Regions from separate parts of the Homo sapiens genome. Here region 2 is linked to region 1. The links come from fine-mapping of genetic effects on gene expression. A gene starts in region 1. The other region holds a variant in brackets. All regions are shown on one strand. Distances are from middle to middle.

The links. PIP is the estimated chance that this variant, and not a neighbour inherited with it, causes the effect.
Region 2: its variant is fine-mapped to the expression of CLEC11A in whole blood (INTERVAL, PIP above 0.99).

The regions. Positions count from the first base shown.
Region 1 is chr19:50,716,858-50,732,198 of GRCh38, reverse strand. CLEC11A (C-type lectin domain containing 11A) reads right to left here and starts at 8,835. Exons shown (of 4, transcript NM_002975.3): 1 at 8,527-8,835; 2 at 8,108-8,294; 3 at 7,598-7,789; 4 at 6,491-7,177. The coding sequence starts at 8,673. The coding sequence ends at 6,732. It overlaps SHANK1 (SH3 and multiple ankyrin repeat domains 1), which reads left to right and starts at 12,397. Exons shown (of 24, transcript NM_016148.5): 1 at 12,397-12,793; 2 at 15,237-15,341. The coding sequence starts at 15,280. RefSeq lists a cis regulatory region at 3,328-4,047 and silencers at 7,267-7,326, 7,367-7,486.
Region 2 is chr19:50,743,796-50,759,136 of GRCh38, reverse strand. It overlaps the pseudogene GPR32P1. Among named protein-coding and RNA genes, the nearest start is that of GPR32, 19 kb to the left of the region's middle. The variant C/T (reference allele first, on the strand shown) is at 6,510.

The sequences.
Region 1 (15,341 bases):
ATGGGAAGAGGATATATGGCCATACAGAGAGTCACCAGGGATGTGCACACAGAGAGGACCACATGAGGGCACAGCAAGAAGGCGGCCGTCTGCAAGCCAAAGAAGGAGGCCTCAGAAGAAACCAACCGTGCCAACATCTTGATCTCCAGACTTCCAGCCTCCAGAACTGGGAGATGATCAATTCTGCTGTTTCAGTCCCCTAGCCTGTGGTACTTTATAAGGGCAGTTCGAGACAACGAATACGTGTATTATTACTCCAAAGCCCAAAAAACAAGCAAAACTAAATAAGATGTTTTTTGGGAAACATACACACATGCTAAAATAATAATGAAAATCAAGCAACGGCGAAACACAAGTCAGGATGGTAGGTACTGGCGAGGGGGATGGGAGAAGGCGTTTAACAGTAACGTCCTATTCTTTTTCTTGTCTTTTTTTTTTTCAGACAGGGTCTCCCTCTGTTGTCCAGGTTGGAGTGCAGTGGCATGATCACAGCTCACTGCAGCCTCGACCTCCTGGGCTCAAGCAATCCTCCCACCTCATCCTCCCAAGTAGCTGGGACTTCAGGCTCTTGCCACCATGCCAGGCTAATTTTTATATTTTCTTTAGAGACAAGATCCCACTATGTTGCCCAGGCTGGTCTCAAACTCCTGAATTCAAGTGATCTTCCCGCCTCAGCTTCCCAAAGTACTGGGATTACAGGCGTGAGCCACCCTACCAGGCCAGGAGCATCTTTTGTTATTCATAATAAGCCCACATCAGCTGAATCATCAATGGGTGCGAAATCAAGGGGGAAATTTTGATGAAAGGCAGATACTGCCTGTCTTAAAGTATCTGCCCCTGGACTGCTTATTAGCTGCAAAGGAGTATTATAGAGCTGGGGAATGGGACATCAGCTCGCTGGGTGATGAAAACTCACTTCACTAATGAGGCACAGTAGGACACTGACTATGTCCAGATGGGATACCTTCAAAGAAGTACACACCTCACCTCATTATTCTGGTGGAGAATGTATAACTTGAATCTAATCATCATGGGGAAACATCAGACCGACTAAAAATGTGGAACTTCTATTTTTAAAAGGGCAAGGAGCTGTTCTTCCAAAATGTGTGTGCATATATATATATAAAATTTTTTTTTAGACGGAGTCTTGCTCTGTTGCCCAGGCTGGAGTGCAGTGGCGTGATCTCGGCTCACTGCAAGCTCTGCCTCCTGGGTTCACGCCATTTTCCTGTCTCAGGCTCCCGAGTAGCTGGGACTACAGGCGCCTGCAACCACACCCGGCTAATTTTTTGTATTTTTAGTAAAGATGGGGTTTCACCATGTTAGCCAGGACGGTCTCGATCTCCTGACCTCGTGATCCACCCGCCTCGGCCTCCCAACCTGCTGCAATTACAGGCGTGAGCCACCACGCCCGGCCACCAAAATGTCAATATTATAAATATGGAAATGTTCCAGATTCAAGGAGGCTAAAGAGACATGACAACTGGCTGGGCGCGGTGGCTCACAACTGTAATCCCAGCACTTTGGGGGGCCGAGGCGGGTGGATCACCTGAGGTCAGGAGTTCAAGACCAGCCTGGCCAACATGGCGAAACCTTGTCTCTACTAAAAATACAAAAATTAGCCAGGTGTGGTGGCAGGCACCTGTAGTCCCAGCTACTCAGGAGGCTGCGGCAGGAGAATTGTTTGAACTGAGGAAGTGGAGATTGCAGTGAGCCGAGATTGCACCATGGTTCTTCAGCCTGAATGACAGAGCAAAACTCCATCTCAAAAAAAAAAAAAAAAAAAAAGACAAAAGAAAAAGGAAAGAAAGATGGGAGAGAGAAAGAAAGAAAAAGAAAGGCAGCAAAAGAAAAGAAAAATTATATATATATATATATGAGCTAAAGCCAGCTAATACTATAAAAATCTGGCCTGCCCTTCATCTATAGACTGAGATAAAGCCAACCGCAAGGTTAACAGGACACATTTCACCCAGGGGCGAGCTGCAGCAGTAAAAGTGTTCTAACAGCCCCCTTTATGAGCGACTACTGCTATCTTACTCACTGAGAAACTTTGTTCTCTAAAATCATAGACTGTGGGAAACTCTGCGGTATGAAAGTCTATCCGTAAGAATGAAACAGACTCATCTTTCTTTCCTGGAAGATCTGTCACTTTGACAAAGATAAGAAGCCTCCATTTCCAGCCCTGGTGCAGAGTTTTAAATAAAAAGTTTCTGGGCACAGCATGCCACATTTATATTAACATTGTAGTTTCCAGGGAAACAAGACCTTAGGTCCACTTTGCAGTCCAAATCTGATATTTCCTTTTTTTTTTTTTTTTTTTTGAGACAGGATCTCGTTCTGTCACCCAGACTGGAATACAGTGATACAATCATAGCTCACTGCAACCTCAAACTCCTGGGCCCAAGCAATCCTCCCACCTCAGCCTCCCAAGTGGCTGGGACTACAGGCGTGTGCCACCACACCCAGATAATTTTCTCCTCCCCTTCCCTCCCCCCCTCACTCCCCTCCCCTTTTCTCCCCTCCCTCCCCTCCCTCCCTTCCTTCCATAGAGATGTCACCCAAGCGGGTCTTGAACTCCTGGGTTCAAGCGATCCTCTTGTCTTGGCCTCCCAAAGCACTGGGATACAGACATGAGCTACTGTATGCGGCCCAGGCCTGATGCTGACTCCCTTATACACATTCCTACCTTGTTCTAAACCTAGCTAAACATTGTTTCACTTAAATTTCATCCAAATTTCTCTCTTCTTCCAAATCCTATAACTTGATTGCAGCTTCTCCTCTGGGGGCTGATCGCTCTCATTTCAGTGGGTCAACAAACCTGACTTTGTCTTGCTTGTCCCTGATGATTGGGCTAGGATGGGTGGGTGGGTGGGTGGATGGATGGATAGATGGAATGATGAAGCCAAAGCAATGAGGTAAACTGTTAACAAACAAATCAGAGTAGAGGATTTGTTTGTACTCCAGTGTTTATATTTGTGTAGGTTATCTATAAGTTTAAAATTATTTCCAAATTAAAATTGTCTGGTTTTTTTGTTTTTTGTTTTTGTTTATTTTTAAGGTGCACGCCTGTAGTCCCAGCTACTCAGGAAACTGAGGCGGGAGGATTGCTTTAGCTCAGGAGGTCGAGGCTGCAGTGAGCTATGATTGTGCCACTACTGCTCTCCAGCCTGGGCGACAGAGTGAGACTCTGTCTCAAAAAAAAAAAAAAAAAAACAGAACCTGAAAATAAATAGAAAAGAAAGAAACTAAGTTGGTTTGGACCAGTGGTTAGCCACAAAGAAATTTTATATTGAATTTTATATTGTTAATTCAGCATATCGACGTTTAAATTTTGAAAAGCGTCTTACCATTTTCTATGATACTAATATTTCATACGAACTTTTTTCACTTTTTAAAAAGTGGTTATGATCTACCCAAGGAAATGCACCTGTTTTGAAAAACTCTCGTCTGAGAGATCCAAACGTGAGTTGAATGTTAAGGCTTCGCGACTTGGGGTTTTCCTACCCGTGGGCGCGTGACAGGACTACATTTTCCAGAGTACCTCGGGGCGAGGCCTGGGTGGAGAGGAGGGGTCTGAGCTCTGATTGGAGACTGCGGAGCTCCGACCTCACCGCCAAGGCGTGGCCCTCAGGCTTGCGGGGAAAGGCAGGCGAACCTCACATGGGAGGAGGGGGCGGGGCTTGCGAGGTGACCCGTAGGAGTCATCCGGTTACTGCGGAAAAACGTGGTGCTGGTAAGGCGGTGATGCGCCTGCTGCTCGGCCTCCTGGGCTTTATCGCCCTGCAAGCCCGTGCGGCCGCTGGTTCTTCCTCCTCCGTCGAATCATCCCAGGCCTCCTGCCCTTGTTCTACTACTTCCCTGGGATCCCTTAATGCATCTATTCCAATCAGCTGCCGAGGCCTCCCCTGGTCCATGGCTCTGGCCTTGCACACTACCAGCGCTCCGCAGAGAGCCAGGGAGAGGACATTGGCAAACTCTGGCCCGCAGGAAGTCTGGGGGGGCTTCCTGGAGGAGAGAGTAGGTTTCCCACGCAGACCAGAGTCAGGAATCAGCGCCGAATGCCACATATAGGCGTGCTGTTCTGATGCATAAACCGTCCTTGCAGGCACGCCACTCCCCACTTCAGACCTCTCTCTCTGCATGCCCACAGCTGGCCCTGTGCTTGGTATGATAGCTCCAGGCCCTGCCAGGGAGACAGACATTGTCTGTCAGACCAGACAGTGGCACCTAAAGTGATGTGGAAAGCCCTGGACCCTACGGGAAACTAGAGAAGGTGCCTCACCCAGCCTTGGGGAGGCCAGGGAGGAAAAGCAGCCGAGATCCGACTCATCTCAGGGTCCCCTGCATGATGCCACACAAGCATCTTCATTCAAAGGGCTCCCATATGCCAGGCGATGCTGGGGACAGAGATAGTCATACCTTGTCCTGCCCTCCCCCACGCACCTGGAGTGTCCCTCAGCCTGTCTGATCAGGGCTGGGTCAAGAGAGGAACAAGGGGTTTGTGGATACCAAAGGGGATCCCTAACCCCGCAAGGGGCTGGGGGAAGGGCTGGTTGTTGGGGTGATGTGTTATCCAATTCTTGGAAGTGGGTGTTTACCCTAGAGAGGAGGGAGGATGGAGATCTTTGCATATACAAAAGCACAGTGTCAGGAGAGAGTACAGAGAGATGAAGGTGAGGTTGAATTGCCCTGGTGAAGCTCAGATCTGGGAACTGCAAAGACCCCTCTGTGTCTGGTACTATTCTAGATCAATACTGTTATTATCCCCACAGTACAGATGGAGACACTGAGAAGTAGCAAGGTTATGTCTCACTCAGGTTCTCCCAGGAGATAAGTGGCTGAGGTAGGATTGGAACCTGGGCCATCTGGCTCTAGAATCTGGGCGGGTAGCCATGGTGTACCATGCCCAAATACTTTCCAGAATGGAAGCTCTGCCAGGGCAGAGACCCCTCTGGGAAATAATAGATACTCATCATTGTCTGCCTAATCTGACCTCTGGTTGGCTATAAGATCTAGGGCTGCCTATCCCTCCCCGGGGAAACTGAAGCTCAGCATGAGAAGAATTTCTGATGGAAGGCTGACTCCAGGCCACACCCCCACTCTCCTATTCTGTATTCCTCTGGGGATGTGGGGCTGAGAAATGTCTCCTGAAGGGAGAAGGGTGGGTGATCTCCCCTCTATCCAAGCTGACAGTGATGGCTTGCTCCTCCCATGTGTGGATCCAATGGTCACCCTTTAGGCAGTGGTGCAATGGCTGAAGGAAGGGAAGGGGCAGAGTGGTAAGGACAGACAGGGTCACATCCCCATTCCTAGGCTCCCTGATGTCAGGGTCACGCCCATGATGCCAACCTTGGGGGAGGTACTAGGGTGATTTCCAAAGAGCCTCTCCTCTAGACAGAGCTGGCCACTATGCTGAGGCCCCGGCTGGCGGACTCCTGGGTGTCTTCACTGCCCCCAGGGAGTAAAGGTATGAAAAATGGTGAGGGAGAGCCAGGCACTGTGGCTCATGCCTGTATTCCCAGCCCTTTGGGAGGCCCAGGAGGGCAGATTGCTTGAGCTCAGGAGTTCAAGACCAGCCTGAGCAACGTGGCGAAAACCAACCTCTATAAAAAAATACAAAAATTAGCCAGGTGTGGTGGGGCGTGCCTGTAGTCCCAGCTACTTGGGGGGCTAAGGTGGGAGGACTGCTTGAACCCAGAAGATTGAGGCTGCAGTAAGCCATGATTGTACCACTGCACTCCAGCCTGGGCGAAAGAGCAAGACCGTGTCTCAAAAAAGGAAAAAAAAAGGTGAGGACGGAAGGTAGTGTGTGGCTCAAGTTCAGCCACCACCAAATGCACACTGTCCTGGTCTCACCTGAACATCCCAAGAGCCGCACAAAGTAGGAGGGATTGTGCCCACGTTCAGATGAAAAACCCGAGGCTCACAGAGGGGAAGGGACTGGCTCCTGGCCTCACTGGCAGGAAGCAGAGGAGGGAAAATTGGGAGGAAGTCTAAGCTTCAGGGTTGGGTGAGTCCTTAAGTCCATGTCTCAATATATCATCCCAACAAGTCCATGAAACCATATCATCTGGGGAAACAAATTGGACACGCCACTTAAACAAATTAAACGGGCTCTTTCCTGCCGGACTTGTCAGAGCCTTTAGCCCCTTCACGTTTCCCAAATCTCTTTGACCAGGACCAAGACCAAGGCCTGGGACAACTGGCAGGCCCTGGGTCCCAAAGGCCGAGAGAGAGGGCACGATGGAGGTGAAGGTGTCTACAGCGTTTGTACGCGTGTACTCCGGCCATCTGTGCACAGAACAGATGACCGTGTGTACATATGCACCTGTGTTTCTCCATCACTCCATCTGGGGCTCAAATGACATCTGTAAAAAGCAGAACAGGCATCCAAAGGCCAGGACACGCGCCCAAAGACCAGGGTCTGGCCCTTCCCGGCTTCCCCTGCAGGAGATAAAGTCCAAGACTGCCTTCACTGCCCCTCAAGTCAGATTCCACAAGGATTTATTGGCACCGGACCTAGCCTGGTGCCCGCCCCTTCAAGGAAAGACACTAACAAGGAGGAGTGCCGGCACCGCAAGAGCCCTCCCAGAAGCGCCCAGACTGGGGGTCGGGGAGGACGCTGCCATTCGTGGCCAGGAAGGGAAGGGAGATTCCGGAGGAGGGTGGGCACGGCGCAGGGAAAGGCCGGGTGGTGGGATGGGCAGGGAGGCGGGGTACCGGCCCCGCTAGAAGGGGAACTCGCAGACGTAGTAGAGACGCCGCTGGCAGTCGTGGTCCCACCAGGAGCCGTCGTCAGAGGCCTGCGCCACGCAGTTCTCGAGCGTGCCACCGTTGGGCTGGTCCGGGCTGAGCGGATGCGGCGAGGCGCTGGGCTGGGCGCCGAGCTCGGGGCGGGGTGAGCGATGCCAGGCGAAGAAGGACACGCGCTGGCCGTTTTCGAAGAGGTAGAGGCCCTCGGCGCGCCGATCGTGCACGCCCAGCCACACGGGCCAGTTGTAGGGAGCGAGCGCCGCGCGCAGGTACCGAGTGAGCGCCTCCATCTGCTGGCGGTCTGCCGGCTGCGCCAGGCTCCCGCCCCGCGCCGTGCACCGCGCCTGCGCCGCCGCCTGAGCTTCGAAGTCGCGCGAGAGCAGGAAGCACTTGTGGCCCAGGCGCAGCCCCTTCAGGCAGCCTGTGGGCGGGGCCGGGTAGAGAAGGAGGCGGGGTCATGCATTCAGAGTCTGGAAGGGGGCGAGGACAAAACATCCGGGGGTGGAGGGAGGCGGGGCCAGGAACTCATGGGGAGGGCTGGGAGGAGGCGTGGTCAGAACCGCGGGAGCCAGGAGGTGGAGAGTCTGGTCCGCCAGGGGCGGGGCCAGGCGGTGGGAGCTGGACTGTAGGGGGCGTGGTGCTGCCCCAGTCGGGTCCGCGCGGGTCTGGAGTGCCCACCCGCTCCCTGCATTCAGCCTCCCAGCTCTCTAACCCCGTCCGCTAGCACACAGCAGCTCTCCCGAACTCTCCCGCCCCGGACACCTAGGGTCACCTTCTCAACCAGTCCCATTCCTGGCCCAGATAGTCTCATTTTTTTCCACCCCGCGCGCCGCGGACTCACCCTCCAAGCGGCCGTGCTCGCGCTCGGCGCGACCCTGCGCCTCCTGCAGGGCTTGCACGGCATCGCGGGTGTCGCCTGCCGCGTTCCGCAGCTGCCGCAGCCCCTGGGTCAGCTCGACCACGCGGGTGTCCAACGCGTGCAGACGGACGTGCAGCTGGTGCAGGCCTGCGTCCAGGCCGGCCAGGCGGCCCACTGCGGACAGACAGGGATCATGCTGGAGGGGGAGCCTGGAGATGCAGCGGGGGGCCTGAGGACCTGGAGAACTGGGATCTAGGGCTCCTGAGGGCGGGGTGGCGGTGGGGGGGGCACCCCGGACTCCTGGAAGGTAGGGTCGAGTGGCCCAGGCCTTTAGGAGGCATGGCCGTGGACCTGGGGCTCCTAGGGGTGTGGGGGCTCTGGGCTGGGCAATGGACAACTGAAAGGCCACTTGGCAGTGAACCGACCCTTCATTTTTGCGAAAGTGACCGCGGCGGCCTAGGAGTTTGGGGGTGAGGGCTTCTGGTTACTCACGGATGTAAGTGACGATGTCCTCAGGGGTGGGAGAGGGGCTGGGGCCGGAGGATGGGGTTGGCGTTGCTTCCTCCTCCTCTTCCTCCCCCTGGTCCTCCTCCATCTCCCAGTCCTCTTTTCCCTCAACAGTTCCGGCAGGATTCTCATCCCCCCTCCCAGCAGGCAGTCCTAGGGCTTCCTGCAGATGCTGGGGCAGGGGAGGGGTGGTGAGCCCCAGCCTGCCACCAAGATGCCCCATTCACCCCTTTCCAACTCATAACTCATTCTCTGCTGCCTGAGTCCTGTCTCTGAGCCCATCACCCTCCCACTCCTCTGAGACTATCCCAATCGCTCCTCATTGTCCATTTCCCTAACCTTGCAATACCCCCTCCCAGACCCACAGTTCACCACCCATAGCTCCCTGACACTCCAGAGCTCACCTTCAGCATCAGGGCCTCCCTCTCCCGCTCCTCCTCCTGGGCACCTCCCCAGCCTCCCTCCCACTCCCTCTCTGCTCCCCGAGCCCCATGGCCAAAGCCCAAGAGCTGGGGGACCACCAAAGCCCCCAAAAGCCAGGCTGCCTGCATTAAGCTGGACTCTTGGCACCCAAAGTTCCAGATGTCTGGATGTCTGGGGTGGGAGGGGTGGCCTCTGGGAACTGCCGAGTGCCCCTGCCCTGTGTGCAGGTCACTAGCCCCCAGGTTCCCGATTCTCCCAGCTTCTCTCTTCCTGTTCCTCTCCTCGTCTCTGTCCGGTCCGTTGGTCTCCTCTGCTTCTCTGTGTGTGTCTCTCCCCGCCCCTCTTGGCTCCCCGGAGGCCCTGCCTCTGTGGCCGGAAACCTCCAACGTTCCAAAGCCTAGATCCCGCCTTGGGTCTCCTCGCACACCCTCCTCTTTCCACTTTCCAGAGCTCGCTTCCGCCCTGCTCTTTCCTTCTGCTGTAGCCCAAAGATCAGATAATCAGGAAGAGGATGGAGCTGGCTCTCCAAGGAATCTTGGAAAACACAGGCCCCGGCCTCAGCCCAGGAACCCGCTCAGAACCATCTCGGCAGTGGTGGGATGCTGGGACCGAGCACTGCTCCCTTCTTCCCTGCCTGGCCATTCCTAAGGAGGGGCAGACCTCAGGGTCTCGCTGAGGTTGTTATTACCCTGTGGCCACCATCGCCTGCACACTCAATGGAGGAGACTCCAGGGCCCCTCCTGCCCCCTAGATTGCCCATCCTACCCTCCAAGCCCTTGTCTGGAGATCCAAGTGAGTGTGTGTGGGGGCAGGGTGACACATGTGAAGAGCACGCGTGTGACTGTGTGCATGACCCTGGAAGACGGGGCTCGGGGATTAATTGGCCACTTTACTAGAAGCCTCCTGCAGGCCAGGCTGTGGGCTGGGTGATGCTGGGGACTCCAGCTGCTTGCAGACCAGCAGCCAGATAGCTCCGGGGATGAGGGGGCTGGAGATGGGAGAGGGTGAGGAGTCTGGCGGAGCAGTCAGGGAAGGTTTCTCCAGGAGGTGAAATCGACAGACGCTAGGTTGTGTGCTCAAGGAGCTCTGAGCATTCAGCAAGCCACCTCATTTCAGCCTGGACCACTGCAGTCTCGCCCTCCCCCTCCTTCCTCCTGAGCCCCTCCAATCCCGGCTGCTTGCCGCAGCCAAAGCAATCCTTCCAAACCATAAATCAGATCACATCACTCCCCACTCCCCTGCTCCCCCACCTTCCCATCATAAGCAGGAGGGAAGCCAAGCCCGGGCCTCAGTCCTCAGCGCAGCCTACCATGCTGGGGGCTGGGAAGGAAGAACCCTTTGCACCTCTGCAGCCTCATCACCCCCATTCCCTTCACCCACCCCCAGCCTCCACCTTCCCTGGCCTCTTGGCTCATCCCCAAATACTAAGCTGATTACAACCTCAGAGCATTTGCACTAGCCCTTTCCTCCTTCTAGAAGCCTCTTTCCCCAGCTCCTTCTCATCATCGAGGTCTCAGCTCCAGGAGGTCTTCCCCAACCACCTTATCTATTCCGCAAGTTACTTTATTAAAATGCCCCATTTCATCTTTTTGGTATAATCAAGACTGGCATGATCTTGTTTGTTTATGTCTGTTCCCTGCCAATGAAAGCAGGGATTTTTATGCACTGATGCATCTCCTAGCACAAGGCCTACCTAGCACATAGTAGGTGTTCAATCAACCTGTTGAGTGGGCGAGAGGGTAGCCGTTCCTGGTGGGGTCAAAGGCCTGGAAGCTTCACCTCTTTGGTTTGCTGGCACCCAAGTTCCCAGGGTGGTGGTGGCAGGGTAGGTAGAGGTGGTGAGGGCAGTGGGAGAGAGGCTTGGAGGCAAGGAAGAACAATGCCATGCCATGCCCCTCTATGTCAGGCCCATGAGTCATGCAGGGCTTTTCCCGCCCAGGCCTGGCTGGTGGTGCCAACAAGCATGGGGCACACCAGCCAAGGATCACTGGGCCTGCTCTTCAAAGGAGGAGACCGAGGCTCTGAAACAGCATAGCCTGCTGGAGGTCACCAGTGTGGCGGCAGCTAGCCAAGGTTTCTGGCTCCAAGAGCAGGGCATCTGCCCTCGGCTGCCGGGAGCCCCAGGAGGGGCCTTGGAAATCAGTGCCTCCAGCCTTCCGTTTTCCAAGAAATCCTGGTACATCGAGGGCACTGTGACCTTGGGCAGACTGCTCCCTGCCTCAGAGCCTGGGCCTCTCAGGTGCCCATCGGGAACCTGGGGCCCCTCACCAGGAGCTACAGACCTCAAGAAATAATGCGTATGTGGGGAAAGGCCTTGTAAAGTGTGCAGGGGTGCACAGCCTCTCTGGCTGCTGGAGCCAACATGGGCAGCTGTGCTTTCCCCGGGCCCAGCTGCTCACCACCTGGGCTAGTGGGTACGCATCAAGATAGAGGCCTCCCCAGGCTGAGCAGGCACCTCCTCCAGCTCATACTCGGGTACCCCGGAGAGCCTGCAGCTGGAGGGGAACCCAGAAGCTGCCTAGAACTGCCCCCTGCAGGCCCTGGAGGTGCTGTTGGAGCTGGGAGAATGAGGAAGCCTGGGCTAAGGGGACACTCACCACTCACTGCTGCCCTGTGGGATCTGCTCTGTCCCTGTGGGTGCGTCCCAGGCATGAATGAGCTGTCTGCCTGCAGCTGGCTGCATATGCGTGCCTACACAGACATGTGCAAACTCTGAGGAGACGGTTGGGTGTGTCTGTGTGTGATGAATAAGGATATGCAACTATGAGGGGATATGCCCAGTAGTGCACCATAGTTGTCAAGTGAGGACTTTGGAGCCAGCCTACCTGTTCCTGATCCTTGTTACCACCTCCTTACAGCTGGATGACCTTGGGCAAGTTACTTAGCCTCTCTGTTCCTTGGTTTCCCCCTCTGGAAAATGGGGATGGCGAAAGTCCCTGAGCCTGGCACACAGAAAGTGCTCCAGGAATGTCAGCAGTAACTATCCTGGAGGGGAAGGATGGCACGGTGTTGGGCATGTAAACGGGTGAGTGCGAGCCAGTGCAATGGACAGCACGGTGGGTGGGTGTGATGGGAAGGCGTGCACACGTCTCTACAGTGCTGTAACTCCGTTTTGGTGTTGAGAGATCTGGGCATGCATACCGGGGTGAACGCCTGTGTGCGTGTGTGCGCGCGCACGTGCGTGTGTGGTGGGCAAATGTGTGCATGTGCTGCGTGTGTGCCCGGGCACAGGGGTGTGACAACTGCATGTAGCTGGGTGTGTTTGTAGCTGTGTACCCCAGGTGCATTGTGTCTGGGCATGCATGCGCTGGAGAGTGTGTGTATGTGGGGACTCTGCAGGTGCCGTTACAGCTGGTGACTATGCACCTGTGCCTTGGGGAAATGTGGCCTGGCCCAGGTATGTCCACGTGTGCCCTGACCCAGTGCTTAAATGGAAAGGGTGTGTGTGTGTTTGGGGGGACAGGGTGGGAATCTATAGCCTTCACACTTAAATTTGGGGGTGTAGAGTCTGGCAACAAATATTTATTGTGCCCCACTCTGTGTAGGGCGGCGGGGAGCTCTCTGGGAGGGGGTGGTCCTGAGGTGTGTGTGGGGGGGCACCTTATGGGGGCAGGACCCCTTCCTCGGGGTATGGGAGCAAGCAGGGGCGGAGTCAGGATTTGGGGACTCGGAGGTGGGGAGGAGTGGTGGGGGAGGGCAAGGGTAGGGGGCGGAGCCGGCGGTGGTGGGGGATGGGCGAGGTTTGGGGGCGCGGGGAGGGGCGATGTCTCCTCCGCCGGCTCCCGGAGGGAGGGGAGAGGGCGGAGGGAGGGGAGGGAGGGAGAGAGGGAGGGAGAGAGACAGGGTGAGGGAGAGACAGCGAGAGCGAGAGAGCGAGAAGGGTGGCAGAGGAGGCGCGGAGCGGGCGGCGGCGGCGGCGGCCCGAGGAAGAGGAGGAGGAAGAGCAGGCGGAGACGCGGCGCCCGGAGCCGGCCGGACCGAGCCGGGGGCGGGCGAGGAGGGGCGCGGCGGCCGCGGCGGAAGGGGGGGCGCTCTGCGGATGGCCAGGCCCGGCCCGCGGGGGGGGTGAGGTCCTCGGCCCTCCCGCCCTCCCCCCCGGTCCCCGCCCGCCCCCTCCCCGGGCCCGCTCGCCCTCCGGGGCGGTGGGGCATGGCCTGAGGGTCCCCGTCTCCGGGGGGGTGGGGGGTGGGGGGAGGGGGGAGGGGCCGCGGGCGCCGCCGACCGGGACTCAGCAGCCCCGCCAGGCAGGTAAGGGGGTCGAGAACCTGGGGGTTTGGGGCAGCTGCGGGGCCGGGGCCGCGGGAGGGGGCGAGGGCGCCCCGGATGTCCTTGGCCCGGCGCCGGGCTCCTGGCCTGGGTGTGCGGCTGGGGGTACGGGTGAGGTGGGGAGCGTTGCCCTGGGCGACACCAAATTGGGTTACGCCCGGGTCCCCGGTGCCCCGTCCCAGATCGCATCCTTGATGGGAGGGCGCGCCCCCCACCCCCGGCCAGCAGAGCCCCTATCCCGAACCCGCCTCCCGGCTCTCCGGGGCCAAGGGCTCGGTCCTGGTACCCGCCTCCCCGCCCAGCCCGGCCACTCCCCCGCCTCGCCCTCCCTGGCGTACCTGGGCCCCTCCGCCAGGTCACCCTGGTCCCCACTCCCCTCCAGCGAGGGTCTAGGCCCGGGCCTCCTCCGCCCCTTTCGACCCCTCCAGCTCCCGCTTCTCCTTCCAGGCTCCTCCAGTCCCTTTCCACCCCTGTCCAAGCTCCCTGCGTCCCCACCAGGTCTCCAGTCCCTACACCGCCGGCCGGCGCGCCCCCTCGGCTCCCGCCCCCGACTCCTGCTCCCCGGTGCCCCCCGCCCCTCTCCCCGGCCGGGTTCTCCCCCACCAGTTTCCCAGCCTCGGCTCCGGCTCTCTCTCCCCGCCCCTCCCCGCCTCCCTCCGCCTCCATTCATTCTCCCCGGCCCCGCTCTCGGCCACGCCAGCCGCCCCCTGTCCCCCCACAGCCTCCCAGGGCACCCCCTCTCTCGCGTCCTCCACCACCCCCCTCGCCGATTCCTCAGCCCGTCTCGGTACCAGCTGCGTGCCAGCTATTCTTAGCCGCGGAGCGTTTGATTCATGCCGCCCCGGCGGAGCGTGCCCGCTCCCTCCCGCGAGCCCTGAGGGGGAGGGGCCGGAGCCGGCCCGGGGGGGCTGGGGCAGCCGTACGCGCGGGGGGCCCTAGCCAGCTTTTCTTTCATCCCACCGGCCACCCCCTCCGAGCGGGGTTGAGGCTGGGGGTCAGCCAGGGTCAGCCGAGGGGGAGTGTCTGCGGGCCCCAGATCGCGAGGTGGGCTGTGCGGCGGGGCAGGGAGGAGGCAGCCGGGGTCTCCGCAGGGACGAGGTGGGGCGGCGTGGCTGGGTACCTGGAGGGGGAGGGGGCTTCGCAGCGCTGCCGCGCGTGGGGGAGGGGTCCGCCGGCCCTGGGTTAGAGGCTCGCTCGCCCACACCTCCTGGAACTCTCCTCCCACCACACACATTTAGTCTTCCCTTTCCCAACCCCCCAGCCCATCCCCACTCCCCCAAAGTCAGCAGTACCCTCCACTGCTTCCCATCTCCATGGCAACGGTGCAGGAACCGGGCCTGGTGTTGGGGGGAGGGACCAGACCAGACATTCTGGTTTCCGGTGCTGGGGTGGGAGTTGGGGGAGAACAGAAGGGAGGCGGACCCCATTTGGAAGGGGCTCCACCCTCATAAGGCCACCTCAAGGGAGAACAGCAAGGATCTAGAGATGATCCCCCACTCAGTTCCCCAGACCCTCCTCTCACTTCTTAGCCTCCCTCCTAACACCCCCAGTCCTCAGAGTGGAGCCCCTAGTACCCAGCAAGCCAGCCCACCCACCCTGCAGTCCTAGAAAAGAGCTACAGGTCATCTGCAGCCACCCACATCTACCCGGGCCACCACACCACTGTCACCTGGACAGCACTCCCCAGGCCGACCTCCCCACCTACCCGCACACCCTCTCAAGATGCCCCAGTCTCCAAAAGCCACCTCTTGTGGTTCCCTTGGGGACACCCTAGGCCAAATGCTCTGCCCATGACACCCCCATCTCAGTGCCCCTTGCTCCCCTGGGACGGCAGATTCCCCAGCACTATTCGGCATGCCACGCGTTGTCAGCCACACTTGAGTGAAGTCACCAGCTCCACCCGCTCCAGGCTCACCACACCTCCCTCTCCCCCTTACTACATCTCAGTGTCAGCCTCAGCTTCTCCCCAACCCCACCCCCCGGCCCTGGGATGAGGGGCCAGGCTGGGGCCAGGAGGGCAGGATGCCTGTCAGTTTGTCCACCTGTCTGTCCTTAGCTAATTTTAGCTGCATTTTCTGTGGCCTGGCAAAGTGGGCCAGTAGCTCCCGCGGTGATTCTGCGGTTTCTGGGACACGGCCACGCTGGGTCACCAGCAAAGTGGGGCGCAGGGGGCGGGCTGCAAGCGGGGCCAAGGGCAGGGAAGGAGACACATGCCAGAAGCATGTCAGGGACAGGGGTGTGTGCGTGCCAGCGTGGGAGGAGGCGGCAGGGGAGGCCGTGCAGGCCGAGGGTGTGTCCAGCCTCCTTCCTGCCTATCTTGGGCAGTGGGGGTAGGCTGCCCTTGACCGCTTGACCACCGAATAGCGCCTGCGGCCTCTGAGGGGTCCCGGGCTCCTAGTCTGATGGCCGCCCTTGGCCCCTGCAGCCGCCTGTGATGCTGCCGTCCCCCGTCGCCCCGTGGCCCCACAATGACCCACAGCCCCGCGACAAGCGAGGACGAGGAACGCCACAGTGCCAGCGAGTGTCCCGA
Region 2 (15,341 bases), 27 kb before region 1:
TGGGCCGGTTGGCATGGACCCAGCCCTCCCGCAAGAGCTTGGCCCGGATGAGGTGGGCGCAGGTGCCTATGATTGCTAAGGGCCCCAGGAAGCCCAGCAGGAAGTGGGCCATGATCACCGCCATTTGTCTCCCAAAGACCTCCTGAGTCCACATCTGGGCAGTCTCATTCTCCAAGTTGAACTGTAAGTAGCACTGCATACAGCCATTCCATTTTCTGGTTGTCCGGAATTTCAGGTGCGCAGAGCACAAGGCGGCGGCCAGGAGCCACACCCCGAAGGCCAGCCAGCTCGCCCTCTGCTCAGTGCGGTGGTTCAGGGCCCAGACGGGGTAGAGGACAGAGATGCAACGGTCCACAGAGATGAGGACCAGGAGGCAGTTACTGGTGGAGAAGGTGAGGAACACAAAACCGGTGTAGAGTTTGCAGGCCCACTCTCCAAGGAGCCACTGCCTGGAGACAATATAGTACACGAGGATGGGCAGAGACAGTGAGAGCATGAAATCGGCAAGGGCCAGGTGGAAGAAGCAGACGGTGGAGACTGTGCGGGCCATGCGGAAGACAGTCACCCACGGCACCAGCCCATTGCCCAGCACTCCGACGACAAAGGAGGCAGACAGGACAGCCATGGTTAGAGGGCGGAGGGACCCCACTTCCTCAGACAGGCATCTGGAAGCATTCATCTTCCTGGAACAGGAATGACCCTGTGTCAGGGCCCCAGGTTGCCTGTCACTGCAGCCCCTGGTCCCCTCCGAGACCCCACTGATGATTTATTTCTCCATTTGATACTTTTTATGGAATGATTATTATTATTATTCTTTTTGAGACAGGGTCACATTCTGTCACCCAGGCTGGAGTGCAATGGTACAATCATAGATCACTGCAGCCTCCACTTCCTAGGCTCAAGAGATCCTCCCACCTCAGCTTCCTGGAGTAGCTGGGACTACAGGCACTTACCACCATGCCTGGCTAATTTTTTTAATTTTTTTTATTTATTTATTTTTTTTGAGATGCAGTCTTGCTCTGTCTCCCAGGCTGGAGTGCAGTGGCCTGATCTCGGCTCACTGCAACCTCCACCTACCAGGTTCAAGCAATTCTCCCGCCTCAGCCTCCCAAGTAGCTGGAACTACATGCACACGCCACCACGCCTGGCTAATTTTTGTGTTTTTAGTAGAGACGGGGTTTTATGATTTTGGCCAGGCTGGTCTCCAACTCCTGACCTCATGATCCACCCACCTCAGCCTCCAAAATGCTAGGATTGCAGGTGTGAGCCACTGTGCCTAGCCTTAGTTTTCTTTTCTGTAGAGATGGGGTCTTGCTGTGTTGCCCAGGCTACTCTTCAACTATTGGCTTCAAGTGATCCTCCCACCTTGGCCTCCCAGAGTGCTGGGATTACAAGTGTGAGACATTGAGCACAGCCTGAATGCTTTTTATGACCCAATAATACTGTTCTTTTTTCTTTCTTTCTTTCTTTTTTTTTTTTTTTTTGAGACACAGTCTTGCTGTGTCACCCAGGCTGCAGTGCAATGGCACGATCTCGGCTCACTGGACACAATAATATTGCTCTAAGTACCAGAGATAACTCATGTAACAAAACAAGCCCTCGTGGAACTTACATCCCAGTGGGAGATGTCAGGTATAATACATATAATAAATTAATTCATGATATACTGCTTTAGAAGATTGCCAAGTGTTATGGAAAAATAATAAGTAAAGTGGAGGGGGCCAGGTGTGGAGGGTCATGCCTGTAATCACAGCACTTTGTGAGGCTGAAGCAGAAGGACTGGATGAAGTCAGGAGTTCCAGTCCAAGGTGGCCAACATAGTGAGACCCAGTCTCTATAAAAAATAAATAATTAAAAATTTTTTGGCCGGGTGCAGTGGCTCACGCCTGTAACCCCAACACTTTGGGAGGTCAAGGCAGGCAGATCACCTGAGGTCAGGAGTTCGAGACCAGCCTGCTCAACAGGGCGAAACCCTGTCTCTACTAAAAATACAAAAATTAGCCAGGCATGGTGGTGCACACCTGTAATCCCAGGTATTCGGGAGGCTGAGAATCACTTGAACCTGGGAGGTTGGAGGTTGCAGGGAGCCGAGATCAGGCCACTGCACTCCAGCCTCGGCGACAGAGTGAGACTCCATCTCCAAAAAAAAAAAAAAAAAATCAAGTTAAGGAGAATTGAGAATGTGAGGGACAAGACGGAAAGCAGAAAGGGGACACTGGTACATTAAACGGGGTTGTCAGGGAAGACCTCAATAAGAATATAACATTTGGCCAGGCTCGGTGGCTCATGCCTGTAATCTCAACACTTTGGGATGCCAAGGCGGGAGGATCACCTGAGATTAAGGGTTCAAGACCATCCTGGCCAACGTGGTGAAACCCCGTCTCTACTAAAAACACAAAAAAATTAGCTGGGCGTGGTAGCACACACATGTAATCCCAGCTACTCGGGAGGTTAGGGCAGGAGAATCACTTTAACCCGGGAGGCAGAGGTTGCAGTGAGCCGAGATCACGCCATTGCACTACAGCATGGGAGACAGGGAGAGACTATTACAAAAAAAAAAAAAAAGAATATAACATTTGAGCAAAGTTTTGGAGGAAATGACAAAGTGAGGCACATACGTATCTGGAGGAAGAGCCCTTCAGGCAGAACCAGCAGCTTGTGCAAAGGTCCTGAGGCAGGACGGTGCCTGGAATGCTCAAGGAACAGCAGGGAGGCCGGTGTGGCTGGAGCCACGTGGGCAATGGGAAGAGAGGTGAGACGTGAAGGCAGAGAGGGAAGCGGACAGATGGAGCAGGACCCTGTGAGTCATAGTGCAGACTCTCCTGGCCTTTCCTGTGAGTGAGATGGGAGTTACAAGAGACTGTTGAGCAGAGAAGGAACAATATCTGACTTAGGTCTTAACAATCACTGTGACTTTAAGGTTGAGACTAGACTGAGGGGGTGGGATGGAAGCAGGAGGCCGGGAGGAAGCTGCTGCAGTAACCCAGGTGGGCAGTGATGGGGATGGGGACCAGGGTGATGTCAGAGGAGGGGGTGGGAAGCAGATTCCAGGGTCAAGGTGGAGCTGGCTAGATTTGCTGCTGGGCTGGATGTGTGAGGTGAGAGGGAGAGCAGTGTCGGGGTGACTGCAGGACTTTTGAACCGATGGAAGCTGGAGTTGCTGTGCACTGGGATGGGGGAGACTGCAGGAGAGCAGGTTTGGGGTAAGACCAGGAGCTCAGGTTTGGGGTAAGACCAGGAGCTCCGGGTTGGTCACTTCGCCTTTGAAATGCCTGTAAGACATCCCGGGGAAAGTTCACTTAGGCAGCTGGATACCGGCAGCAAGATTACAGGAGGGGGCCCAGCACAGTGGCTCACGCCTGTAATCCCAGCACTTTGGAAGGCCGAGGTGGGCGGATCACCTGAGGTCAGGAGTTTGAGACCAGCCTGGCCAACATGGCAAAACCCCATCTCTACTAAAAATACAAAAATTAGATGGGTGTGGTTGCAGGTGCCTGTAATCCTAGCTACTCGGGAGGCTGAGGCAGGGGAATCGCTTGAACCCAGGAGATGGGGGTTACAGTGAGGCAAGATCACACCACAGCACTCCAGTCTGGGTGACAAAGTGAGGCTCTGTCTCAAAATTAAAACAAAAAAATTACAGAGGGGTTCCTGGCTGGGTACGGGCATGTGGGAGTCAGAATTTAGATGCCAGCAGGGCACAGTGGCTCACTTTTCTAGTCCCAGCACTTTGGGAGACAGAGGCGGGAAGATTGTGTGGGTCCAGGAGTTCCAGGTCAGCCTGGACAACATGACAAGACCTTCCTTGTCTCTACAAAAAAATACAAAAATAATTTAGATACTATTTATGTCTTTGAACCTGAAAATGACCTCCGAGGGTGAGGTGCAGGCAGAGAAGAGAGGTCTGGGGTTGAGGAAAGCTTGAGCTTACACAGCAGACAGGCATAGGTCGAAGCTCTAGTTGAGATGCTGGATTATGACTGTGTGATCCTGGGTTCAGAGCTTTCTGCCCCCCATCCCCACCCTGAGCCTCAGTATGCTCGTCTGAGATAGAGGTGTAGAATCCTTGAATACCTCTGTCTCCTACTCCCCCAACACGCACACCCAATTCATCACAAAGCCCTGTCGATTTTGCCTCCAAAAAGCCTCTTGCCTCTGTCCACTATGTCCTGTCTCCACAGCCCTATCATCCAAGCACACAGCGCCCCAGCATTTTTTTTTTTTTTTGAGACAGGATCTCACTGTGTTGCCTAAGCTGGAGTGCAGTGGTACAATCTTGGCTCACTGCAACCTCTGCCTCTCGGGTTCAAGCAATTCTCCTGCTTCAGCCTCCTGAGTAGAGTAGTTGGGACTATAGGCACACACCCTGGGGACATGCCCAGCTAATTTTTATATTTTTAGTAGAGACGGGGTTTCACCATATTGACCAGGCTGGTCTTGAACTCCTGACCTCAGGTGATTCATGCACCTCGGCCTCCCAAAGTGCTGGGAGTACAGGTGTGCGCCACTGTGCCTGGCCCTCAGCTTTATATTCATCTCCTACCAGCCACTCACCACCCTACAGCTAGAGTGATCCTTTGAAAGCCCAAACCTTGTAACCCCAGCGCTGTGGGAGACCCAGGCAGGAGAATCACTTGAGGCCAGGGCTTCAGGACCAGTCTAGGTGGCAAGGCGAAACCCTGTCTCTACAAAATAAAAATAAATTGGCCAAACAGTGTGGCTTGCATTGTAATTCCAGCTACCCGAGAGGCTGAGGCACGAGGATCACTTGAGCTCAGGAGATTGAGGCTGCAGTGAACCATGACTGTGCCACTGCACTCCAGCCTGGGCAACAGAGTGAGACCCTGTCTCAAAAAAAAAAAAAATACAGTTCAAACTGGAAAATTACACTGTGGCTCTTCATTGCTTGTGGGATAAATATGAGTCTCCCCGGCACCACTGGTGAGAGCTGGGGCACCTGCCAGCCTCTCCAGACTTCTCTTGCACCTTCCCCCTCTTTGTGCACCAAATCCCGGCTTCCCTACCTTTGTGTCCATTGCCAAGATTCTCATCTCCCTCCCACCCCAGGGCCTTTGCATGTGCTGCCCCTCTGCCTGGAACACCTTTTCTTTCCTCTGCTTTTTTTTTTTTTTAACTCATTCCTGCGATCTCAGTGCAAATTTCACTTTCTCCCCAAAGTTTTTCCTGCCCTTTTCAATCAGACCCTCCTATAGGAGCTTCTCTCCCATGAAGAGATGATTACAGGCTGGGAACGGTGGCTCACACCTGTAATACCAGTACTTTGGGAAGCTAAGGTGGGAGGATCGCATGAGGTCAGGAGTTTGAGACCAGCCTGGCCAACATGGTGAGACCCCCATCTCTACTAAAGATACAAAAATTAGCTGGGTGTGGTGGTGCATGCCTGTAATCTCAGCTACTTGGGAGGCTGAGGCAGGAGAATCGCTTGAACCCGGGAGGCGGAGTTTGGAGAGAACTGTGATCATGCCACTGCACTCCAGCCTGGGTGATAGAGCAAGACTCTGTTGTCCCCCCGTTCCCCCCGAGCCCCCACAAAAAAAGAGCTGGTTACAGGCAGCAGCAATTAGACCGCGTTTGTTGGATCATTTGGTGATCACCCATCTGCATTATTCATCTCTGAGTTCCCTAGAGGCGAGGCTGGTGTGTGGCTTGCTCCTGGCCCCTGGAACACAGCAGGCACTTGGTAAATAATCGATGAGTGATCCATTAAGGAGGGCAATCTCTCCTTTGTCATCTGAGGATGGATTCATTCATTTAGTGTAAAATTATGCATTGAGCCCAAATTGTACACCAGACACTATCCTAAGCGCTGGGGGTACCGCAGTGATGAAGACAGTCAAATACCTCTGACCAGGCACAGTTCACGCATATGGCATGAGAACATTCCTCACCCAGAGGAGGTGGCCCAGAACTTTCAGCCCCTTTTTGCCACCTCTTTTTTTTTTTTTCTTTTGAGATGGAGTCTCACTCTATTGCCTAGGCCGGAGTGCAATGGCACGATCTCAGCTCACTGCAACCTCTGTCTCCTGGGTTCAAGCAATTCTCCTGCCTCAGCCTCCTAAGTAGCTGGGATTACAGGCAGCTGCCACCACACCCGGCTGGTTTTTGTATTTTTAGTAGAGATGGGGATTCACTATGTTGGCCAGGGTGGTCTCCAACTCTTGACCTCAGGTGATCCACCTGCCTCGGCCTCCCTAAGTGCTAGGATTACAGGGGTGAGCCACTGTGCCCAGCCCACTACCTCCTTTTTGTATACCCTGGAGAGTGCCCTTCAACTCTCCTAATCCCCAAGCTCCTACCTCCTGGCTCCCTGAGACACACCCCGCAACGAATCCCGGTCCCGTCACCTTGTGCTGTGTCTGAGGGTGAGGCAAGGTGAGGGGGCTCTTTCTGTCTCTGTCGTCAGTCCCAGGTGGCCGCCAGCCTTGAGCCCACGTTAAAGGTAGGGGGCTGATGGCAGGAAGCTAGCTGTGAGTTTTGGAGCAGATAAA[C/T]GTCCAGGAAAGAACCTTGAGCAAGAGCTTCAGAGATCGCTATCAGTCCGGGAAATGTCACCAGATGTGGGCCCTAATAATAGGCCCCAGGGGCTGCAGGCTTGGGGCATAAGGAGGAGGCGGGTGCCAGGGAGGTCTTTCCGCAAGGCCATTCCAATTCTCCTCTGCCCTCTTTGTGCTAATGAAATTTGTTAAGAGATACAAAACACTTAAAACTTCTTGCGGCCGGGCTCGGTGGCTCACGCCTGTGATCCCAGCACTTTGGGAGGCCAAGGCGGGTGGATTACCTGAGACAAGGAGTTCAAGACCAGCCTGGCCAACATGGCGAAACCCTGTCTCTACTAAAAATACAAAAATTAGCCAGACATCAGGGTGGGTGCCTGTAATCCCAGCTACTTCGGAGGCTGAGGCAGGCGAATTGCTTGAACCTCAGAGGTGGAGGTTGCAGCCGGTCGAGATTGAGCTACTGCACTCCAGCCTGGGCAACAGAGTGAGATTCATCAAAAACAAAAACAGAACAAAACAAAAAAAACTTCTTGGCACATAGTAGGTGCTCAAGCATTGTTAGGTCTCGTTATTAATACTGCTATAGTCCTGCTTCGATTAACATCAGGAATAAATTCTGAGAGATGTATCCTTAGGTGATTTCATCATTGTATAGATATCATAGAGTGTGCTTACACAAACCTAGGTGGGAGAGTCTGCTACACACCTGTGCCAGATGATCTAGCACAGGGGTCTAGGCCATAGCCCAAATGCGACCATCTATTTATTTTTTGAGACGGAGTCCCACTCTGTCACCCACACTGATTTGCAATGGCACAATCTCAACTCACTGCAACCTCCGCCTCCCAGGTTCAAGCGATTCTTCTGCCACAGCCTCCCAAGTAGCTGGGATTACAGGCATGCACCACCACACCTGGATAATTTTTGTATTTTTAGTAGAGATGGGTTTTCACCATGTTGGCCAGGCTGGTCTCAAAACGCCTGACCTCCAGTGATCCGTCCACCTCGGCCTCCCAAAGTGCTGTAATTCCAGCTACTGGGAAGGCTAAGGCAAAAGAATCACTTCAACCCAGGAGGCAGAGATTGCAGTGAGCCGAGATCACACCATTACACTCCTGCCTGGGTGACAGAGCAAGACTCCATCTCAGAAAAAGAAAAAATGTAAGACACAAACACACACACATCAGCCTAGGCCTATGCAGGGTCAGGATCATCAACGTCACTGTCTTCCATCTCCACGTCTTATCCCACTGGAAGATCTTCAGGGGCAATAACACCCTTGGAGCTGTCGTCTCCTAGGATAACAGTGCTTTTTTCTGGACACCTTCTGAAGGAGCTGCCTGAGGCTGTTTTGACAGTTAATTTTTCCCTTTCCTTTTTTTTTTTTTTGAGGCAAGGTCCCACTCTGTTACCCAGGCGGGAATGCAGTGGCACAGTCTCAGCTCACTGCAGCTTATGCCTCTCAGGCTCAAACGATCCTCCCACCTCAGCCTCCTGAGTAGCGGGAACTAAGGCACACACCACCACACTGGGCTAATTTTTACATTTTTTTCTTTTTTGCAGAGACTAAGTCTCACTATATTGCCCAGGCTGGTCTCGAACTCTTAGACTCAAGCAGTTAACTTTTCTTTATAAGTAAAAGGAGTACACTCTAAAATAACAATAAAAACTATAGTACGGTGAATAAAGGCCGGCCGTGGTGGCTCATACCTGTTTCCCAGCACTTTGGGAGGCCAAAGTGGGTGGATCACTTGAGGTCAGGAGTTCGAGACCAGCCTGGCCAACATAGTGAAACCCCATCTCTACTAAAAATACAAAAAGTATTCGGGCATGGTGGTGCATGCCTATAATCCCAGCTACTCAGGAGGCTGAGGCAGGAGAATCACTTGAACTGGGGAGGCAGAGGTTGCAGTGAGCCAGCCTGGGTGACAGAACGAGACTCCATCTCAAAAAACAAACAAAGAAACCTATATATAGTAAATATATACACCAGTAACATAGTTGTTTATTGACTTTTTTTTCTTTTTTGTAGAGACAGGGTCTCACTATGTTGCATGGGCTGGTCTCGAACTTCTGGCCTCGAGCGATTGCCCTACTTCAGCCTCCCAAAGTGCTGGGATTACAGGTGCGAGCCACCATGTCCTGCCCGTTGCCATTGACAGGTATGATGTACTGTACACAATTATATGTGCTATGCTTTTCTATGACTGGCAGTCAAGTAGGTCTGTGTACACCAGCATCGGCACAAACATTAGAGTAACGCCTTGAGCTACTCCATTAGGACAGCGACAACATCACCGGGCAATTGCAGTCTTAGCTCCATTATAATCGGTGGGGCCACCGTCGGACGTGCAGTCTGTCATTGACAGAAACCTCGTTATGCTGCACATGGCTTTATTCCCTCGGGAGAATGCTGCGGCCTCAGCAGTAACATTTCACTGACTCTAAGGCACATCATGTCAACAGGTGTCACCAGAAAGACAAGATGTTGTAACCAAGCGAGTTAGAGAGAAATGCCACACTTTGAGACAAATTATGGAGTCCTTTATTAGCCAGCGACTGAGAGACAGCTAGCGCTTAGAATTCTCTCCATCTCGAAGAAGGGGCTAGATTCTCTTTTATACTATGGTCTAAATAGAGGAGGGGGAGTTTAACTGAAGTAGTTTTACAGAAGCAGAACAGGCAAAAAGTTAAAAAATTAATTGGTTATGGAAGCAGTTACAAAAAATAAACAGTTCCAGGTGCAGGGGCTTAAACTATCACTAAGAGATAAATGCAGGGGCTTTTAGGTACCTTCCACCGAGCAGGAGCTGCTAATACAGGCTGCCTCAATATCTTATCAGCAGGTGCATTCCTGGATGTGCTTGGTGTCAGCTTGCACTAGTTATTCCCTTAAGGGGGATACGGGGGGCCCCAAGTGAAGAAACCAAAATGGAGTCTGTCCAGCTCTCTCTGCTAGGAGACAGTCACTCCGGTTAAAACAGGGTAAGGTATCACAAAGACACAGCCTAAAAAATGCAATCCAATGCTTATTTTATTTTATTTTATTTTTTGAGTTGGAGTCTCGCTCTCTCGCCCAGGCTGGAGCACAATGGTGCGATCTTGGCTCACTGCAACCTCCACCTCCCAGATTTAAGCGATTCTCCTGCCTCAGCCTCCCGAGTACCTGGGATTACAGGTGGGTGTCATCTCGCCCAGCTAATTTTTGTATTTTTAGTAGAGACGAGGTTTCACCATATTGGCCAGGCTTGTCTCAAACTCCTGACCTCAGGTGATCCACCTGAGGCCGAGGCAGGCGGATCACTTGAGGTCAGGAGTTCAAGACCAGCCTTGCCAACATGGTGAAACCCCATCTTTACTAAAAATACAAAAATTAGCCGGGCATGGTGGTACACACCTGTAGCCCCAGCTACTCAGGAGGCTGAGGCAGGAGAATCGCTTGAACCCGGGAGGCAGAGGTTTGCAGTGAGTTGAGATTACACCACTGCACTCCAACCTGGGCAACAGAGTGTAACTCTGTCTCAATAAATAAATAAATAAATAAATAAATATTTCAGCATCAATTTCCAAAAGAAAGGACCCCTTTAAGAGAAATACAGTTACCAGGCATGGTGGCTCATTCCTGTAATTTTAGCACCTTGGGAGGCCAAGGCAGGCAGATCATTTGAGGTCAGGAGTTCAAAACCAGCCTGGACAACATGGTGAAACCCCGTCTCTACTAAAAATACAAAAAAAAAATTAGCCAGGTGTGGTGGCGGATGCCCGTAATCCCAGCTACTTGGGAGGCTGAGGTAGGAGGGCTCTGCTGTTGTGGGATGACGGAAGATTCACGAAAAACAGGTAAAGGAGTGGGCAGGGCTTTGTGCCAATAAAACTTTATTTATGGACACTGAATTTTGAACTTCACATCATTTTCGTGTGTCGTGAACATTATTATCCTTCTTTTGATTTTGCTTAACCATGAGCTCACCGACTGCCCCAAAACAGGCAGTGCGTCAGATTTGGCCTGGGCGGTGGGTCATAGTTTGTGAAACCCAAGTAGACGTCAACCTGGTGTTGCTTTAAAGAGTGCATGTGAAGGCCGGGCGCAGTGACTCAGCACTTTGGGAGGCTGAGGCCAGCGGATCACTTGAGGTCAGGAGTTAGAGACTACCCTGGCCAACATGGTGAACCCCATCTCTACTAAAAATACAAAAAATTAGCCAGGTGTGGTGGCGGGTACCTGTCGTCCCAGCTACCCGACAGGCTGAGGCAGGAGAATCACTTGAACCCAGGAGGCGGAGGTTGCAGTGAGCCGAGATTGCGCCACTGCACTCCAGCCTGGGTGACACAGTGAGACTCCATCTCAAAAACAAATAATAATTTAAAAAATGAAACCAGTTCCTTTTCTAAGGGCAACACCGGGGAGAGCTGGTGAGATGACGGTTGTTCTCCCCAGGCTGTGCTCTGCCTGGATTTGGGGATTACCTCCTCCCATGGTGAAATTCTAAATGTATTTCTCCTGCTGCACACAACATTCAGCCTTTTTTGCTTTGTTTTGGTGGCCATTCTGGTATTTTTTTCTCCTTTTATTTTAGATTCAGGGGGTACATGGACCTGGAGAGAGAGAAAGAGAGAGAGAGATATATAAAATAGTTATATATATTTATAGATATAGAATATTATATATAATAGTTATATATATTTAATAGATATATAATATATATATAATGTTTATATATATTTATAGACATAAATATTATATATAATGTTATATATAATAGATATATATTATATATTTATATATAATAGTTATATATTTATAGATATAAATATTATATATTATATATATTTAATAGATATATATTATATATTTATATATAATATTTATATATTTCATAGATATATATTATATATTTATATATAACATTTATATATATTTAATAGATATATTATATATTTATATATAATATTTATATATATTTAATAGATATATATTATATATTTATATATAATATTTATATATATTTAATAGATATATATTATATATTATATATAATATTCATATATATTTATAGATATAAATATTATATATTTATATATAATATTCATATATATTTATAGATATAAATATTATATGTTATATATTTAATAGATATATATTATATATTTATATATAATAGTTATATATTTATATATGTATGTTTGTGGGGCGGGGGCAGTGGACAGAGTCTTGCTCCGTCACCCAGGCTGGAATGCAATGGTGCAATCTCGGCTCACTGCAACCTCCGCCTCCGGGGTTCAAGTAATTATCCTGCCTCAGCCTGCCGAGTAGCTGGGACCACAGGCATACAACACCTCGCCCGGCTGATATTTGTATTTTTAGTAGAGACGGGGTTTCACCACGTAGTCCAGGCTGGTCTCAAACTTCTTACCTCAGGTGATCCGCCCACCTCGGCCTCCCAAAGTGCTTGGATTACAGACGTCAGCCACCACGCCTGGCCGACCTGGGTATATTACGTGATACTGAGGTTTGGGTTACGAATGACCCCACCACCCAGGTACTGAGCGTAGTCCCCTACAGTTGGTTATTCAACCCTCGCCGCCTCCCCCTTTCCGGTCTCTAGCAGTCGCCAGTGCCCATTTTTCCATCTTTACATCATGAGTACCCAATGTTAAGCTCTCACTTATAAGTGAGAACATGTGGTATTTGGTTTTCTGTTCCTGCGTGAATTCCATGAGGATAATGGTCTCCAGCCGCATGCATGTTACCACAAAGCACAAGATTTCATCCTTTTTTTTTTGAGACGGAGTTTCTCTTTTGTCGTCCAGGCTGGAGTGCAATGGCACGATCTCGGCTCACTGCAACCTCCGCCTCCCAAGTTCAAGCGAGTCTCCTGCTTCAGCCTCGAAAGTAGCTGGGATTACAGGCATGCACAACCACACCCAAATAATTTTGTATTTATGGTAGAGATGGGGTTTTGCCATGTTGGCCAGGCTGGTCTCGAACTCCTGACCTCAGGTGATCCACCCACCTCAGCCTCGCAAAGTGCTGGGATTACAGGCCTGAGCCACCGTGCCCGGCCCCCAGCTTTATGTTCATCTCCTACCAGCCACTCACCACCGCTGCTCTGCCGGCTCTGAACCTTTTTTTAAATCATAGTACCTCACGGTGGTTTATGGCATTATTACCCAATCAGTTCTTGGCAAATTTAAGTGTTGTTTTTTCCTCCCTAACTGTTTTGCATTAAAAATAGTGCTGTAAATAACACCTTTGGGGATGAAAATTTTGTCCGTGTTTAGGATTCTTTCTTTCTTTCTTTCTTTTTTTTTTTTTAGACGGAGTATCGCTCTGTCGCCCAGGCTGGAGTGCAGTGGCGTGATCTCGGCTCACTGCAAGCTCCGCCACCCGGGTTCACACCATTCTCCTGCCTCAGCCTCCCGAGTAGCTGGGACTACAGGCGCCCACCGCCACACCCGGCTAATGTTTTGTATTTTTAGTAGAGACGGGGTTTCACCATGTTAGCCAGGATGGTCTCGATCTCCCGACCTCGTGATCTGCCCGCCTCGGCCTCCCAAAGTGCTGGGATTACAGGCGTGAGCCACCGCGCCTGGCCTAGGATTTTTTCTTTGGTCTCGATTCCCACAAGTGGACCCCAAGAAAGAAAAGATCTTGTCTCTGTCACCCAGAAGGTCCTGACAACCCTACAACCGAGCAGGAGAGAGGCTGCGCCGGCCTGCCACACCGCCCCGGGGATTCCTGTGAGATTGTTTCCTGCTTGTTGATGGACGGGGTTGGATTTTGATTTCTTGTGTGCAGGAACGTCTTCCTGCCATGATGGTTGGCCACTCCCTCTCTTTACGATTTGCAAACGTCTCTCCGTGTCTTTTGCCCACTTGCCTACTGGAATCCAACTTTGTTCCTTTTTTATGTGGTTTACATGATAAGATTATTGACGCTATTTCTGTCGCAGGGAATATAAGTTTTTTTCCAAGTCTATTTCTTGACATAATTTTAGTGAGAGTTTTATACACAGAGATTTTGATTTAAAGGCTGTCAAATCGGTCTCCTTAATATGAGAAAAAAGAGAAAAAATTAGTTAGCATTTTTAAATAAAGGCATAATTTGCATACAGCACAATTCACCCTTTTTAGGTGCAGTTCTGAGGTTTTGGCAAATGCACGCATCACGTGACCACCCCGTAACCAAAACACAGAACAGTTCCATCACCGCAAATCCCCTCACACCCCGTTACGGCTCAAGTGGTTAAAACGTAAGAAAGCTAAAAGAATAGATGTGAATAGGCAATTCTTTTCTCCGGGTTGCTCTATGTTTTATGATATTGAACCCTAATTTTTGTCTTTTTTTTTTCTTGAATAAAACCGAAAATGCTAAATGAGGGGGAAATTGCAGCTCAAACTAAAATTGGTAGTTAAAGAGTCCCCTGCCATCCTCGTTCTTCCCTCAGATAATGAGAATTGTTAACAAGTTCATATTTTTCTTTTCGTTTCTTTCTTTCTTTTTTTAGAGATGAGATCTTGCTATGTTGCCCAGGCTGGTCTCAAACTCCTGGCCTCCAGTAATCCTCCTGCCTCGGCCTCCCAACATGCTGGGATTACAGGCAGGAGCTACTGCGCCTAGCCGAGTTCCACTCTTTTAGATTCCACATATAAGTGAGATTATGCGGGGTACATTTTTTTTTTAACCTGGAGATCACTTCACAGTTACAGAAAAGTTACAAGAGCAATACAAAGAGGCTGGGCACAGTGGCTCACACCTGTAATCCCAGCACTTTGGGAGGCCAAGGTGGGCAGATCACCTGAGGTCAGGAGTTCGAGACCAGCCTGGCCAGCATGGCAAAACCCCGTCTCTACCCAAAATGCATAAAAATTAGCCAGGCATGGTGGCACGTACCTGTAATCCCAGCTACTTGGAAGGCTGAGGCAGGAGAATCACTTGAACCCGAGAGGTGGAGGTTGCAGAGAGCCAAGATCACGCCACTGCTCTCCAGCCTGGGTGACAGAGGGAGGCTCCATCTCAAACACACGCGCACACACACACACACACACACACACACACACACACACACACATATATACACACAGCCCCTGGACCATGAAGCCTGGTGAGCACATTGAGGTGCTGGGAGGGTGGTGCCTGGAGAGGACCTGGCAGCTCCATGCTCTTCCCCATAACTCACTCTATGTATCTCTTTCATTCCTGAGTTCTATCCTTTATAATAAACCAGTAATAATAAGTAAAATGCTTGCCTGAATTCTGTGAGTTGTTCTAGTGATTGTTTTTTCTTTTTTCTTTTTCTTTTCTTTCTTTTTCTTTTTTTTTTTTTTCTGAGACAAGTTCTCGCTCTGTCACCCAGGCTGGAGCATAGTTGCCTGATCATATAGCTCACTGTGCTCTCAATCTCTTGGACTCAAATGAGCCTCCTGCCTCAGCCTCCTGAGTAGCTGGGACTACAGGTGCATGTCCCCACACTTGGCTAATTTATTTTATTTTTGGTAGAGATGGGGTCATGCTATGTTGCCCAAGCTGGTCTCCAACTCTTGGGCTCAAGCAATCCTCCCTCCTTGACCTCTCAAAGTGCTGAGATTACAAGCGTGAGCCACTGTGCCCAACCTGTAGCGAATTAGTGTATTTGAGTAGGTGTTTTATTCCATTTGCATTACTATAAAGGAATGTCTGAGGCTGCGTCATTCATAAAGAAAAGAGATGTATTCGGCTCACTGTTCTGCAGGCTGTACAAGCATGGCACCTGTATCTGTTCTGCTTCCAGTGAGGGCTTCAGGGGGCTTCCAATCATGGTGGAAGCCAAAGGGGGAGCCAGCACA